2 linked regions of the Homo sapiens genome follow. The protein of the gene in region 1 interacts with the protein of each later gene in a pairwise test. Each region holds a gene or a part of one and is shown in the gene's direction. Other genes may lie near its edges.

Evidence for each region. Proteins that work in one complex are often made in the same cells at the same time.
Region 2: the proteins of C1QTNF2 (region 1) and VSNL1 interact in binary tests that used the Homo sapiens proteins (3 or more experiments, as listed by UniProt).

What each region holds. Positions count from the first base shown.
Region 1 is NC_000005.10:160,347,235-160,353,633, reverse strand, and holds the end of C1QTNF2 (complement C1q tumor necrosis factor-related protein 2 isoform 1 precursor), read left to right. Parts: intron 1-3,757; coding exon of another isoform or gene 3,758-3,852; coding exon 3,853-4,466; 3' UTR 4,467-5,880; downstream 5,881-6,399. UniProt on the Homo sapiens protein: Involved in the regulation of lipid metabolism in adipose tissue and liver.
Region 2 is NC_000002.12:17,536,608-17,543,720, forward strand, and holds the start of VSNL1 (visinin-like protein 1), read left to right. Parts: upstream 1-4,088; 5' UTR 4,089-4,311; intron 4,312-7,113.

The sequences.
Region 1 (6,399 bases):
CTTCATCCACAGAGCAAATCTCAGAACAGCCAATTCTCCTTGGCCACATGCGTATCCTGGACCAATTCCCTTGACCAAGGAGGTGAGGTGCCTCCATTTGCAGGGCAGGCTCATGGACCCACCCCTGCGTGTGTGTGAGTGGGTGGTGGGGGCAGTCAGTCATTGTGACTGACAGCCCCGCTAGGACCGTATGAAATGAAATGGTGAAGGGCAACTCCCCAAAGGAAGGGATGCCAGGCAGACGGCGAGCAGAATGGATATACTCTACAGACCTTTCCGTTGTGACATTCCTTATATCTCCAAACTTTCACCCCAGCAACCAAGCACTTTTCAGTGTCAGCAGCATCCCTAAGCCTACATTTTAAGCAGTAGAGAAATATAATAATTTTTATTTGTATGGCATTTTAATATTGACAAAGCACTTTTGAACATGTTGCCCATCTGACCATCCATATCGTGTGCCGGAGGGATTCTTATTTTCCCCATGTTACAGATGAGGATACTGAGAGTCAGAGTGATTCAGTTGATAGCAAAATGTCATCCTCGCAAGAACGTGAACTTTGGAAACAAACCTGGACACTGATTTTGACAAACTACTTAACTTCTCTCCAAACCATGGTTTCCTCATCTCTAAAATATGGATAATAATAGCACCTGTCTCACAAGGTTGTGGTAAAGATGAAATAAAACAATGTATGAAGGACCAGTCTCAGCATAGACATACAATAAATGTTAGGCACCCTGTAATTGACTTATTGAGCTCACATAGCATGCAGATAGCTGACTCCAAATCCAGGTCTTTTCCTACCACACCAAACTAATTCCTTCAAAGGTACCTCCTCCCCAGGAGATTAGTATAAAAGTAACTATCATAGCTTTAACTGGGGTGGGTCTTCCAGCGTGCTGGGCACTGGTATCATGATATCCAATTTCCTGACCACGGCGGCAGACTCAGGTCTGGACATGTGCTCCAAGCAGGCCAGCTAGAGTTTTCCCTGAGATTTGCCTATGGATCCTGAGGGACAGAGTCTCTGCTGTTGACTTCCCCAAATAGATAAAGCTTACCAGGAAGTTCTACCATGTACTGGGGCTGCCTTTGGCCATCTGTTCTGCTGTGTGTTGAGTCTCTGCAGAGAAGGAAGCCACCACACCAAGGAAGGCAGTGTTGGGAGAGTCCCAGCGCATGTAACTCAAACAAAGCTTGTCACCCTGGGGCCAATTCAGGATAACATCCAACCACCCGCCATCACCACACATACAAATTCACCTCCAGAAAAGTCTTTCAAGAGTAAAGTCAGCTTTTCCCAAAGTCTCTCAAAAAAGGTAAAGAAGAGGAAAGCACATTATATAATACATGGTAGGACCTCCTGGTAAGCTTTTTTATCTATTTGTCTCCCGCCAAAAACCCCAAGTCAAAATGACTTGGAGGCTGCGTGGTGGCTCATGCCTGTAATTTCAGCAGTTTGGGAGGCCAAGGCAAGAGTACTGGGAGGCCAGGAGTTTGAGACCAGACTGGGCAACATAGGGAGACACCATTTCTACAAAAAATTTTAAAATTAACTAAGTGTGGTGGTGTGTGCCTGAAGTCCCAGCTACTCAGGAGGCTGAGGCAGGAAGATTACTCAAGCCCAAGAGTTTGAGGTTACAGTGAGCTATGATCGCGCCACTGCACTCCAGCCTGCGTAACAGCGTGAGACTCTATCTTTAAAAAAAAAAAAAAAAAGATTCTGTCTCTATTCCTCTTCTCTTGGCCCCTTTTCCCACCTTTTGTTTATTTTCATTTTTTCAAGAAATAGCTTTGTGACTTTTCTGAGTTTTATTTTTTCCCATTCTTTTTGTTTATTTTTAATTATATGAGTAATATACAAATACAGTCTCATTGTAATATATTCAAACAATACACATAAAGCAAAAGTCCTCCTTACTTACTACCCCTTCTCATCCTTCCCTCACCCTCCAGAGGTAACCACTATTAATTGGTTAGGTATGTATCTTTCCTGGCCTTTTTCTATATATTTACATATGTATTTAATAATACCAGGCATTGTCAGGCACTTAACATAAGCACTCTGTTCCTGAAAATCAAGTGTTCAGTAACAAAATGCAATTTGGAAACCTATTTCCGAATTATGTAAAATAGGAAAAATTCAGATGCATTACAGATTAACTCAAAACTCTAAAACACAGTGAAATGCCTACATACAAATGTATAAGAAACAAAGTAACTTGTTAGGATGTAAAATGCCTAAAACTTTACTTCCTTGACCCAGTTCATATGGTTCTAACAACCTTGTGTCGAGTGAACTCAAGTCATTATCCATATAGGTTTTGCTTAAAATGTTGTATTGAGTTGAGGGGACATAAACTAAATTGATTTTATGCAATCAGTAGCCAAAAATGTTGGATTGAGAGAAATGTGCATTTTATGAAACATTGGAGTATGAAACATCAAAAAGCCTTCTAAAGGAAAACACAACTGGGGGAATTGTTCTGCAGGGAATGCCAGCTAGTATTTAGGAATGTTTGCTATAGGCCAAGCACTCTTCTATGCGTTTAAATGGGTGTAGAAATATTTAGCACTGTGGGCCAGGTGTGGTGGCTCACGCCTGTAATCCCAGCACTTTGGGAGGCCGAGGTGGGCAGATCACGAGGTCAGGAGTTTAAGACCATCCTGGCTAACACGGTGAAACCCCATCTCTACTAAATATACAAAAAATTAGCCGGGCGTGGTGGCAGGTGCCTGTAGTCCCAGCTACTCAGGAGGCTGAGGCAGAAGAATGGTGTGAACCTGGGAGGCGGAGCTTGCAGTGAGCGGAGATCGCGCCACTGTGCTCCAGCCTGGGCGACAGAGCAAGATTCCGTCTCAAAAAAAAAAAAAAAAAATTGGCATTGTGGATTCCATTCCTTTTGTTTTTCTAATTTTTATTTTTTAGAGACAAGGTCTTACTCTGTTGCCCAGGCTGGAATGCAGTGACACAATCATAGCTCACTGTAACCTGGAACTCGTGGGCTCAAGGGATCCTGTCACCTCAGCCTCCCAAGTAGATGGGGCTAAAGGCATATGCCACCATGCCTGACTAATTTTTGTATTTTTTGTAGAGACTGTCTGGCTACATTGCCCAGGCTGGTCTCAAACTCCTGGCCTCAAGCAATCCTCCAGTCCCAGCTTCCCAAAGTGCTGGGATTATAGACGCGAGCCACCTTGCCCGGCCTGCCTTCCTTTTAACACAAAGGGTCTGGCCACCTGCTCTTTCCTCTTAGTGTATGTTAGAGAAGGTTTCATAGAGCACACGTAACTCTACTTTTTTTTTTAACTCCTGCATAGAAATCCACAGTATAGATGGACCGTAATGTTTTTTATCATTTGCCTTTGGATGGGCATTTAGTTGTTCCTATTTTTTGCTATTATAAGCAATGCTGCAATAAAATCCTTGTACACGTGGGCAGGGCTTATATGCACTAGGCAGGGATTTTACTAAGATCAACGTGTTGAAATCAAGAGGCTTTTTCCAGTTCTCTTCTCAACCCATTACCAGCGCAGCCCATGGAAGGATTGAGCTGGCAGACAGACCAGACCCTTCCTTAGAAGGCAGGAAAAGGAAAGGGTGTGAACTGTTACAAGTTATTCTTTTTGCCCTGATCCACAGTGATTCTTGAAGGTAAGTATCATCATTTCCATTTTCCAGAGAGCTAGCATTAGGATTTACACCCACTTCTATATGTCTGCAAAGCCTTCTTGTTCTTTCTATTACCCAAGCACTCCTTCTCCAAGATTGGAAGACCAAGCCGCACCGCACCCCTCTGCCTAGGTCTGTGAGGACCCTCCATAACACCAGCTGCTCTGTCTTCCAGGTCCACCTGGCCGGACAGGTAACCGGGGAAAGCCAGGACCAAAGGGCAAAGCCGGGGCCATTGGGCGGGCTGGCCCCCGTGGCCCCAAGGGGGTCAACGGTACCCCCGGGAAGCATGGCACACCAGGCAAGAAGGGGCCCAAGGGCAAGAAGGGGGAGCCAGGCCTCCCAGGCCCCTGCAGCTGTGGCAGTGGCCATACCAAGTCAGCTTTCTCGGTGGCAGTGACCAAGAGCTACCCACGGGAGCGGCTGCCCATCAAGTTTGACAAGATTCTGATGAACGAGGGTGGCCACTACAATGCTTCCAGCGGCAAGTTCGTCTGCGGCGTGCCTGGGATCTACTACTTCACCTACGACATCACGCTGGCCAACAAGCACCTGGCCATCGGCCTGGTGCACAACGGCCAGTACCGCATCCGGACCTTTGATGCCAACACCGGCAACCACGATGTGGCCTCAGGCTCCACCATCCTGGCTCTCAAGCAGGGTGACGAAGTTTGGCTGCAGATCTTCTACTCAGAGCAGAACGGGCTCTTCTATGACCCTTACTGGACAGACAGCCTCTTTACGGGCTTCCTAATCTATGCCGACCAGGATGACCCCAACGAGGTATAGACATGCCACGGCGGTCCTCCAGGCAGGGAACAAGCTTCTGGACTTGGGCTTACAGAGCAAGACCCCACAACTGTAGGCTGGGGGTGGGGGGTCGAGTGAGCGGTTCTAGCCTCAGGCTCACCTCCTCTGCCTCTTTTTTTCCCCTTCATTAAATCCAAACCTTTTTATTCATCCAACCATCTATTTATTCACTTCTTTTTAAAGTATCTACTGTGTAACAGGCACTATGCTATTCTCTGAAAGATGCAGCAGTGGACAAGACAGAGTATCTGTCCTCATGCAGCTTACATTCTAGCAGGAGATACAATTTACAAATATACAAGCAAATAATATAATATTATGCCAGGATAGAAATGAACATGCCATGGTTGACAGTAATAGGAATAACAGGAGACAGGGAAGAGGTGGAAATTTGTTTCTTTTTTTAAGTTTGCGTTTTTAGGTTTACTTACATACAGTGACTCTCCAGATTTTAAGTTGACAACTCAGTGAATAATTTTTGCTTATGTGCACACTCTGAAACCTCCATGTAGATCAAAGAACAAGCTATTTCCAACTTCTCACCTCCCTTCCCCAAAAGCTCTCTTAAGACCCCTCTAAGTCAGTACCTGGAAAATTTCCATTTTTGAGCTGAGTTCCAAAGAAGGAAATAGAGCAACACAAAGGCCTCGAAAAGAGGTCTCCAGCAAAAGGCTCTGCAAGTGCAAAGACCTTGACAGGAAAGAGGGAGGGGCCAAGGTAAGAACTGAGAAGGGAGGCATGAGGCGTGAGGCTGGAAGATAATACAGAATGTCCCAGGCCATGGCAGAGCTCGTTCCATTCACGAAGGCTTATCAGAATACAAAGTGACACTGATAGGCGGATCATCTTGAATCTGCTCATTGCATGAGTCAAGTCGGCCACAGACTTGAGCGCTTTATTATTAGTTAATCTTTTGCAGGCCCGCTTCTCAATGAATGAGATACACCAGGATATGCACGTGCATCTGAGAACCGCTGCTCTGAGATGGCAGGAATGGATCCCACGCAAATGAATCGCACCCCAAGCACAGGTGTTGCCAGTATGCAGGGATCTGGGGGCTTAAGAAGCTGCAGTAAAAGTGCCAGGTGCTGGCGGGATGTGGTAGCTCATGCCTATAATCCCAGGACTTTGGGAAGCTGAGGTGGACGGATCATTTGAGGTCAGGAGTTCAAGACCAGCCTGACCAACATGGCAAAACATCGTCTAAAAAAATACAAAAATTAGACAGGCGTGGTGTTGGGTGCCTGTAATCCCAGCTACTGGGGAGGCTGAGGCGGGAGAATCGCTTGAACCCAGGAGGTGGAGGTTGCAGTTAGCTGAGATCCTGCCACTGCACTCCAGCCTGGGCAACAGAGTGAGACTATCTCAAAAAAAAACAAAAAAAAAAAAAAAACAAAAACAAAAACGCAGGTACTGAGAGACCCATGAAACGATTTGCTGGAGATAATTTTCAGTTGGAGCTGCAGCTCCCTAGCAGCTTTCTCTGGCTGCCCGCCTAGTGAGATCCTCAGGGACAAGGATAGCTGCACGGGATAGTTCCAGAAGGAGTGGCCATCTCCATAAATAAAATCGGGTTTATTTAAAATAACTCCATTGTCTCTGGGCCATAAATGGTTTGGGATTGGGGTGGGTCTGAAACATTCAGGAAAGGCTTTCTGGCCCAATCAGATTGACGTGTGGGTTGGGGTCCCCTGCAGCACCCCTGTGGGAAGGGGTCAGCTTTGGTCAGTGAACAGTTCTTTTTACCTTTTCTTTTTCTTACAAAAATAAATTTTAGGAGAGCCTTTCGCTTCTTCCTCTTCCTTCCCTCAGGGATATAGGCATTTGAAGGCATTTGACTTAACCCTTTGTAGCCCAGGTAATAAATCCAAACTCAGCAAGATGGGCTGGACCCCAGAGCTCTGTGGTTGCC
Region 2 (7,113 bases), on another chromosome or scaffold:
CAGGGCCTTATGAAACTTTTATTGTGGATTGTTCAAATTTTGAGGAAATTAGTGTCTACAGACAGAGTGATCTTTCAGACTGAATTTAGATCCAGTCATGGATTACAGAGTGAAATCAGAGGAGGACTGGGAGACATGATCAATCAAGTTCATTAAAACTAGAATTTTTATTCCCTTCTCTGCAGAAGGAGGCCTAAAACTCACCCATTAACTGCATGGGAATCACTGCTTCATGGTCTTGCATTTTTTTCAGTATTTTAGAAAAACATGTAGAAGGGGCACAGACATATACAATGAGACAGTCTATGAGTCAGAAAAACTGTTGTAGGGCTGTATTCTAAGAGATACTTCCTATTTGACTATAGGGAAGTTATTTTATTTTGTTGGTCTATCTGCATCTTTTAAAAAAAGATTTAAAAAGTCAGAATAGGACTGGAAAAGATGGCTCATGCCTATAATCTCAGCACTTTGGGAGGCCAAAGCAGGAGGATTGCTTAAGACCAGGAGTTTCAGACCAGCCTGGGCAACATGGCAAGACACCTGTTTCTACAAAAATATAATAAAATTAGCCAAGCGTGGTGGTGTGTGTCTGTAGTACCAGCCACTTGGGAAGCTGAGGCGGGAGGATCACTTGAGCCCAGGAGTTTGAGGCCACAATAAGCTATGATCCTGCCACTGCACTCCAGCCTGGGCAACAGAGCGAGACCCCTGTCTCTCTCAGAAAAACAAAAAAAAATCTTACGTAATATAATTATCTTACGTAACACACCTTTTCTGTAATGATTAATACCCTTTGCTTTTGGAATAAAGGTATGCTATCCATAGAAGTAAATTACTATCATTATTCTTTAAGAATAAACGAGTATAAATCCATTCTTCAATTCCGGTCTCTTTTCATTTTCTAATAATGACTTTCAAGTTTTCTTCCAATTTTTAAAAAATATCCCCATGCCTTAAGTTCCACCCTTCTTGGCTCATATATTTTACACACAAATTTTCTAATAAATAATATTACCAGGAGTTCCCAGGACTATGAGCTTAGACCTGTTACACTACTGGAATTTCACACTTTTACTGTCATTCTCCGTTTTCAATTCGTCCACGTCACAAAGCGAGTGAGAATATTACATGGAGTATTTTACACCTGAAAATCTACTGTTGGTATTGTTTGTTTGTTTGAATCTGGGAAGAAATAAGGTGGAAGTAAGGCTAGAAATTTCTATAAAGAACATAATTTGCAACTGAAGGAAGAAAAATAGCTCTTCAGTTGTTTCTGGTTAATTGAGGATTCTACCAGATACACAGGAAGGAAGAAACAAGCCCCTACCTACAGCACCTTCCTCCTCCTCCTCTATACCCCCCCACCCCCCAAAAAAAATCCAGGGTGTGAAAGTTGTAGAGTTGGGGACGTGGCTTTAGGTAACGGGACAACTGGTAAAGCTGATGGCATTCTTCACTCAACATGGGACAGTGTTCCAGTCCCTCTACCACAGGAGCGCCCGGCAGCGTAATCTCCGCTTTTTTGTGATCACCAGTGCCATCCGCAAATGCCTGAAGGAGGAACAGCGGGCTCCCTCACTTCTGAGGGACCCTGCCACATTCCTCCCTTCAAGTACATTCTCCCATCCTAAAGAGGGGATTTGCCTTCTGTAATTTAAACGATAATATTCCTTAGGAGTCTTAGAATTGGCTTTCTTACTGTGACTTCGTATATACAACTCGACTAAAAGGCATGCCAAAAAAATTAAACAGCAACAAAATATTAGAAGCTGAAAAAGATAAAGCTACATAATAGCTGGATATTAAACATTACAATATCGCATTTAGGACGCAAACAGCGCTGCAGTGCAAATGGAACTTTAAAAAATCTGCCCGCCCACGTAGACAAAGCTACTTTACAAAAGCGCACGCGTCGATATCAATCGTACCCTACAACAGAGCATGGTTTAAAGTATCAGTGTACATTTTTTCCTAAACACAAGTTGCAAGTAAGTTATCTAAAATCGAACACCGCCACGAAAGAGACCTCCAGGGTGCAATAAATAGGTATATCTCGTTGAAGTGGAGAAATGGCATCATGACCCTTTGGGTTGATGCAGATTACAGTGCGGAGGCTGTTCTCGAGAGAGAAACTAGAACTCAGCGTAAAATGCTGTAGTAGGGGAAATCGACCAAAGACGAGATTTTGAAAGCCTTTTGAAAGTCGTTTTTCTAGCTAAAAAGAAAAAGTGACTTATTCAGGACTGACTCCCCCTGCCAGTCCCAGGAAACAGGAGCAGCCCGGCGCGCCCGGGAGCCCCGCAGCGCAGTGCGCACTGCGGCTCCAGAGCGAAGGGCTGGCGCCCGCCAGATTCTAAACGTGCTCGGCTGCCGCAGCCCGCCGGGGCCGCGCGCCGTGGTCCGCGCGACTCCGCGCTCCGGGTTTCCGCGGTCACCAGCACTGGCGGAAGAGCCCTGCCGAGAGGGGACAGCCGCGGGCGGTGTCCCGGGAGTCCCGAGAGCGCGCTCCCCCTTTGCGCAACCTTCCCGAGGCGTCCTGCCCGGGAAGCCAGTTCCTGGGTTCTGGGCTGGCTAGGTTGGCAGCGAATGAGGCTTAGGCATCACTGCCTGAGGCCCTCACTTAGCATGTCGACAGCCACAGACTTGTCTGGCGGAGTTTCTCCTGGTGCCCACTTAAGTAGTCTCAAGTTTGTTCAAAGCTGGACTCCTCGACTTGGAACCAGGAGCAGCTGGAGATTTGTCAATTTAGAGCTCATTTGCCACGGGAGACGCTCTTGGTGTCCCCAGCACCGAAGGGTAGGTCAACTCTACAGTTTTCCTGAACATGATAAGGTGTGTGAAGACGCTGTGCAAATTGTACAGCGCTCTGCTTAAGGAGAACCTCGATCTTCATCTCGCCCCCAGAACTTCCCTCCCTTGAAAATAAAACTCCCACCTGAATGTAAAGCCCAGGAGGGGGTTTTGTTAACCGCACTTATTCCCAAAGCATAAAGGAATGTCTAATAGTTTTGCAAATGCTTCCATGAATAATTGTTGAATGAGTTCATGTACAACATACACACTTGAGGAAAACTGGTCTGGTTGGGAACATCTGGGAATTCTCCTTGCTTTTCTGGTAGGGAAGCGACCGACCAAACATTTATTGGGCACTACTCCTTGCCAAGCCTTCTAGGCTTTGGCAGGCCAATGGGGAGCCGGGGGGAGGGCTGGCAAACCTGTTAGTTGTTCAAGGACACAAAGGGGGCTTTATAAGATGGCCTAATCAGAGCCCTTAAACGTGGGTTCGCAAAATGGTTCATTCCCGCCCTTTCACCCACCCCCTCCCACCCCAGACGCAAAGCATATGTTAAAAACACTTAAGTGCATACAGAAGGCGCTTGGCTCAGGGTACACAGGGCAAGAAGCCTCGGATCCCAGCTCCCTTTAACACACATTTTTTCAACGCCGTTCTGGACCGAGACTGTCCGGGGCACTGGGTGCTGCAGGACCCGGCTCCCAGTACTCCTAGCAGAAGACCCTCTGATGAAATGGCCCATGACAAAATGACCACCATAACCGTTCCTTCAGTAAGCCAGGTAGACGTGCTCACAGCTTGCTGGGAAGTCTTCTTTCGGAGATTTCTGCAGTTTTCTCCTTCACCTTACAGCCTAACAAAGGGTGGGCCGGGGGTCGGCTAGGACAGAAAGCAGCGGGAAAAGCGGCTCCACGTGTTCCATCTCTGGCCTCGGCCTTCAGCCCCCAGGTTCGGTAACCACTGGGCGTGGCGAGTCCGGGTAACCCGCAGTCCCTCGCGCCCGTCCAGGTGCGGGTTGCTCCGGTAGCCGGACTCCCTTTTCCTATATACTTTCCTTTTGAGCTTTTGCTAAAATCTGGAGACGTGGAATCCACCCGCGGAAACTCCGAGCCCCTCCGACTGAGCATGCGCCATCGCCAGGCGGCTTTTGGTCACAGGCTCCCGAGTTCTCCTAGCTGGGGCTGCGGAGCTGGGGGGAGGGAAGAGAGGAAAGGGGAGGGGGTGCCTGGAGAGGCGGAGGCTCGCGCGCCTGCGCATCCAGCTCCAGGGACCCTAGGTTTTCTATGGGATTCCCAATCTGCAGCAGAGATTTACCCGAGCGTGTTGCGGCAGCGGCTGGGCTTGCAAGGCGCGATCCAAGAGGGATTTAAGCAGCCCAGAGCTCCAGAGAAAAAGAGAGCGAGAGAGAACCACACACAGAGACGGCTTAAGCGTTTACCCGAATTAAATATATATTTTTAAAAAGAACTGTTGAGTTTTATCATTTTCGTTAAGTGACCGTGCGCAGCGCTGTAACTGTAAGTGGAAAATACAATCTTCGTTGCATTTCTGCATGTGTAGTGCAACCAACTGTCAGAGAAATGCTTTGGCTATTGTCACATACTTTGCTTTGCATAGATGCGTCTAAATGCATGGGGACAATTTCCTTGCTTAATGCTGGCGATCTGAATGTGCTCTTAGTCCATGGGGGATCTTTTGGAATATTGGGGGTGGGGGAAGGGGGAGTGTTTATATGCGGCGTGTTTGGGGGATTGTCTTAGACTAGATTTAAGACAGGTGAAACTGAGATGCTTTCTTAGTTTGTCTTAGACAGATTTAAGTAGCTAATTGACCGATTGTGAAGTTTTCCGGTTGCTGATAAAACTATTGAGCGGGTACAGTCGAGTAGCAACCTGTCATCCGTGGGATTGGTGCACCATTTTTCTCACTGTGGAAGGGCAGCAAAGGTGTTTGCTAAGTAAAACTGAGTGGATGAGATTGGTATGGAAATCATGGTTGATCTCTGAGCGGGATGTTAGTGTTTAAGATCCACGGAGTCAGGCGCAAAATGAGCACATTTCTCTCAGTATTCAGAAATGAGTAGATAATTTTTTTCGTCTTTGATTTTTGTCACAATGGTGAATGGGCAGAAAAGGGAAAGATGCTCTACTGCACTGTCGATTTTGAACGGAGTCACAGGCTCGGTCGCTGAATGGGGACTGTCAGACCCAAACTAGTTACCTGCCTTTGCATTCCGTGTTCGCCATCCGGAATCTGGGGTTAAAAAATGTAAATCAAGGTGTGTTACATTTGGTAGTATTTCTTTAAAGGATAAAAGGTCGTTTTGTGTTTTGAGTTAAAATGGGTTGTTCCTTGCCCAGAAACTGGAAGAAGGGTCTTTGCAAGGTCAAACCCCGGGTGGAAATCAGAATGATGAATACCCTCAGGGGTACAAGAATGTGTACGTGGAAGGAGCGAGGAGAGGCTGATGCTCCCTGCATGGTGGAAATGATGAGTGCTCCGCATTGCCTGATCAGTGCCCTGTGAGATGCCAGAGTGGGAATCCATTTTTCTAGAGTTGCCCTCCTGTCCGTATTTTGGAAACTAAAATAAAATAGAATTGTTGGTGGTTGTGGAGAACACTAAGTACATACTATTTGTGTATCACTTTCCAGTTGAAGGCAAGAAAAGCTGGGGAGTTTTATTTCTACATATTAATATTTATTTTAATTTCTAAAGGAATTTCAGGTTGAGACAAATTTAAAATGAAACTCTTGTGAAAACACATTTTACCCCCACTATCATTTAAACTGCCTACGTGTGTTTGTGTGTGTGTGGTGGGGGGGAGTAGGGGGTGATCCTACATCATTGAACAACTTACTTTTGAATGCACTCTCATTAAGCCTTGGGTATTTAATAACCCCAGAAAATGCTGCACTGAAGCAGGTTGGCAGAATGGGCATGAGGCAGAAAGATGAGAAAAAAGCATGGCTAGTGCGTGCTGGATTTCCACGAAATAAGCAAATCCAATTTTGGGGATGAAATGAAATAAATTTTCCCTCAAATCGGGTGTGGGGGCCATCAAATAGGGCTCTTTGGCCCTTTGATCAGTCCAACCATTTGGAACCCCTCAAAGGAATTTATAATTTATTTAAATGGATGAAATTTGTAATTGAAAATTCGAGAAGAACCTCTCATTGGAAATCCACAGTATAAATCATACTGCCTTGTCTATTCCTTCTTTCCTTACTCCAGGGCAGAAGGACTAATCATTTGTCATAATTGAGCCATACTCCCTGTCATCATTGAGCATTGGCATCAGTTCGATGAATGGTGCAGGTGTTGACACTGCATTGATAAAGAGGGGTGGTAGAGGAAAAAGGGGGGAATTAGGTATCAAAACTGATAAATGCTTGGTCTTGGAGTCCCTGGCTCATAGGTTGACAGAGAGGATCAAGTTAGGCAGAGACCCTGTAAGGTATCTAGTCCAAACCCCTTGCTTTGTAGATGAGGAAACTGAGGCCCAGAACCATGGATGTAGAGAAAAGTCAATTAACTTCTAGTCTATGGAATAAACAATTAAAAAGTAATGTTGAGTGGAAATGTTTCCTTCTCTCTTTCATTTTCAGCAGTCTCAGTGACATTGCTGCAGACTTCAAATAAATAACTGTCTGCTCTCCAGCACATCTTTTGAAATTGTCTCTAGGGGTCCCTTTTATACCACCTCATTTCTCTTCCTTGCCTCTCTTTGTCTTGTAAGGTCTCTTTCTCTCTCTTTTTTATTGCCCCTCACCTCTAATATCCCCACCTCTTTGGATGTTTAGTCTGGCTTTTCTGGCCTCCTCTGCATCTCAGACAATTTCTTTGGAATCCTTGGCGTTTGCCGGGAGCACTAGCGTATCAGAATCTGCAGTTCCTGTTTGAGAACTGCCCAGGGCCCATTTCCATCTTTCCCTGCTGTGTTCCCCAAAATCCTTCAGGGAATCCAGCCTTCAAAGACACTGCAGTTACATTCCCACTTTTCTCCCCATCTGTCCTCCTCCAAAACCACTGCAGCTGCAGAGATTAGGACTTCGTGGAGTGAGGAAGCTGCAGGGTTTCCAGAGTGGACTTTGCCAGCTCACCTCTGGCTCCTAGGAGGCAGAACCCAAATTAGAGATGCCTGTCTCCAGCCTTCCTGGAAATCCTCCAGATAAAGCCACCTGCGGAGAAGGGAAAGGGAAGGGACAGAAAGACCGAAGAAGGCTTGACTGGTTTAACCTGAAGTTGTGCTATAGAGGAGAGTAGTGCAGCTTTTTCATCCTTTAAAGCTTTTAAAGCATTTGCATAGCTTTTCCTCA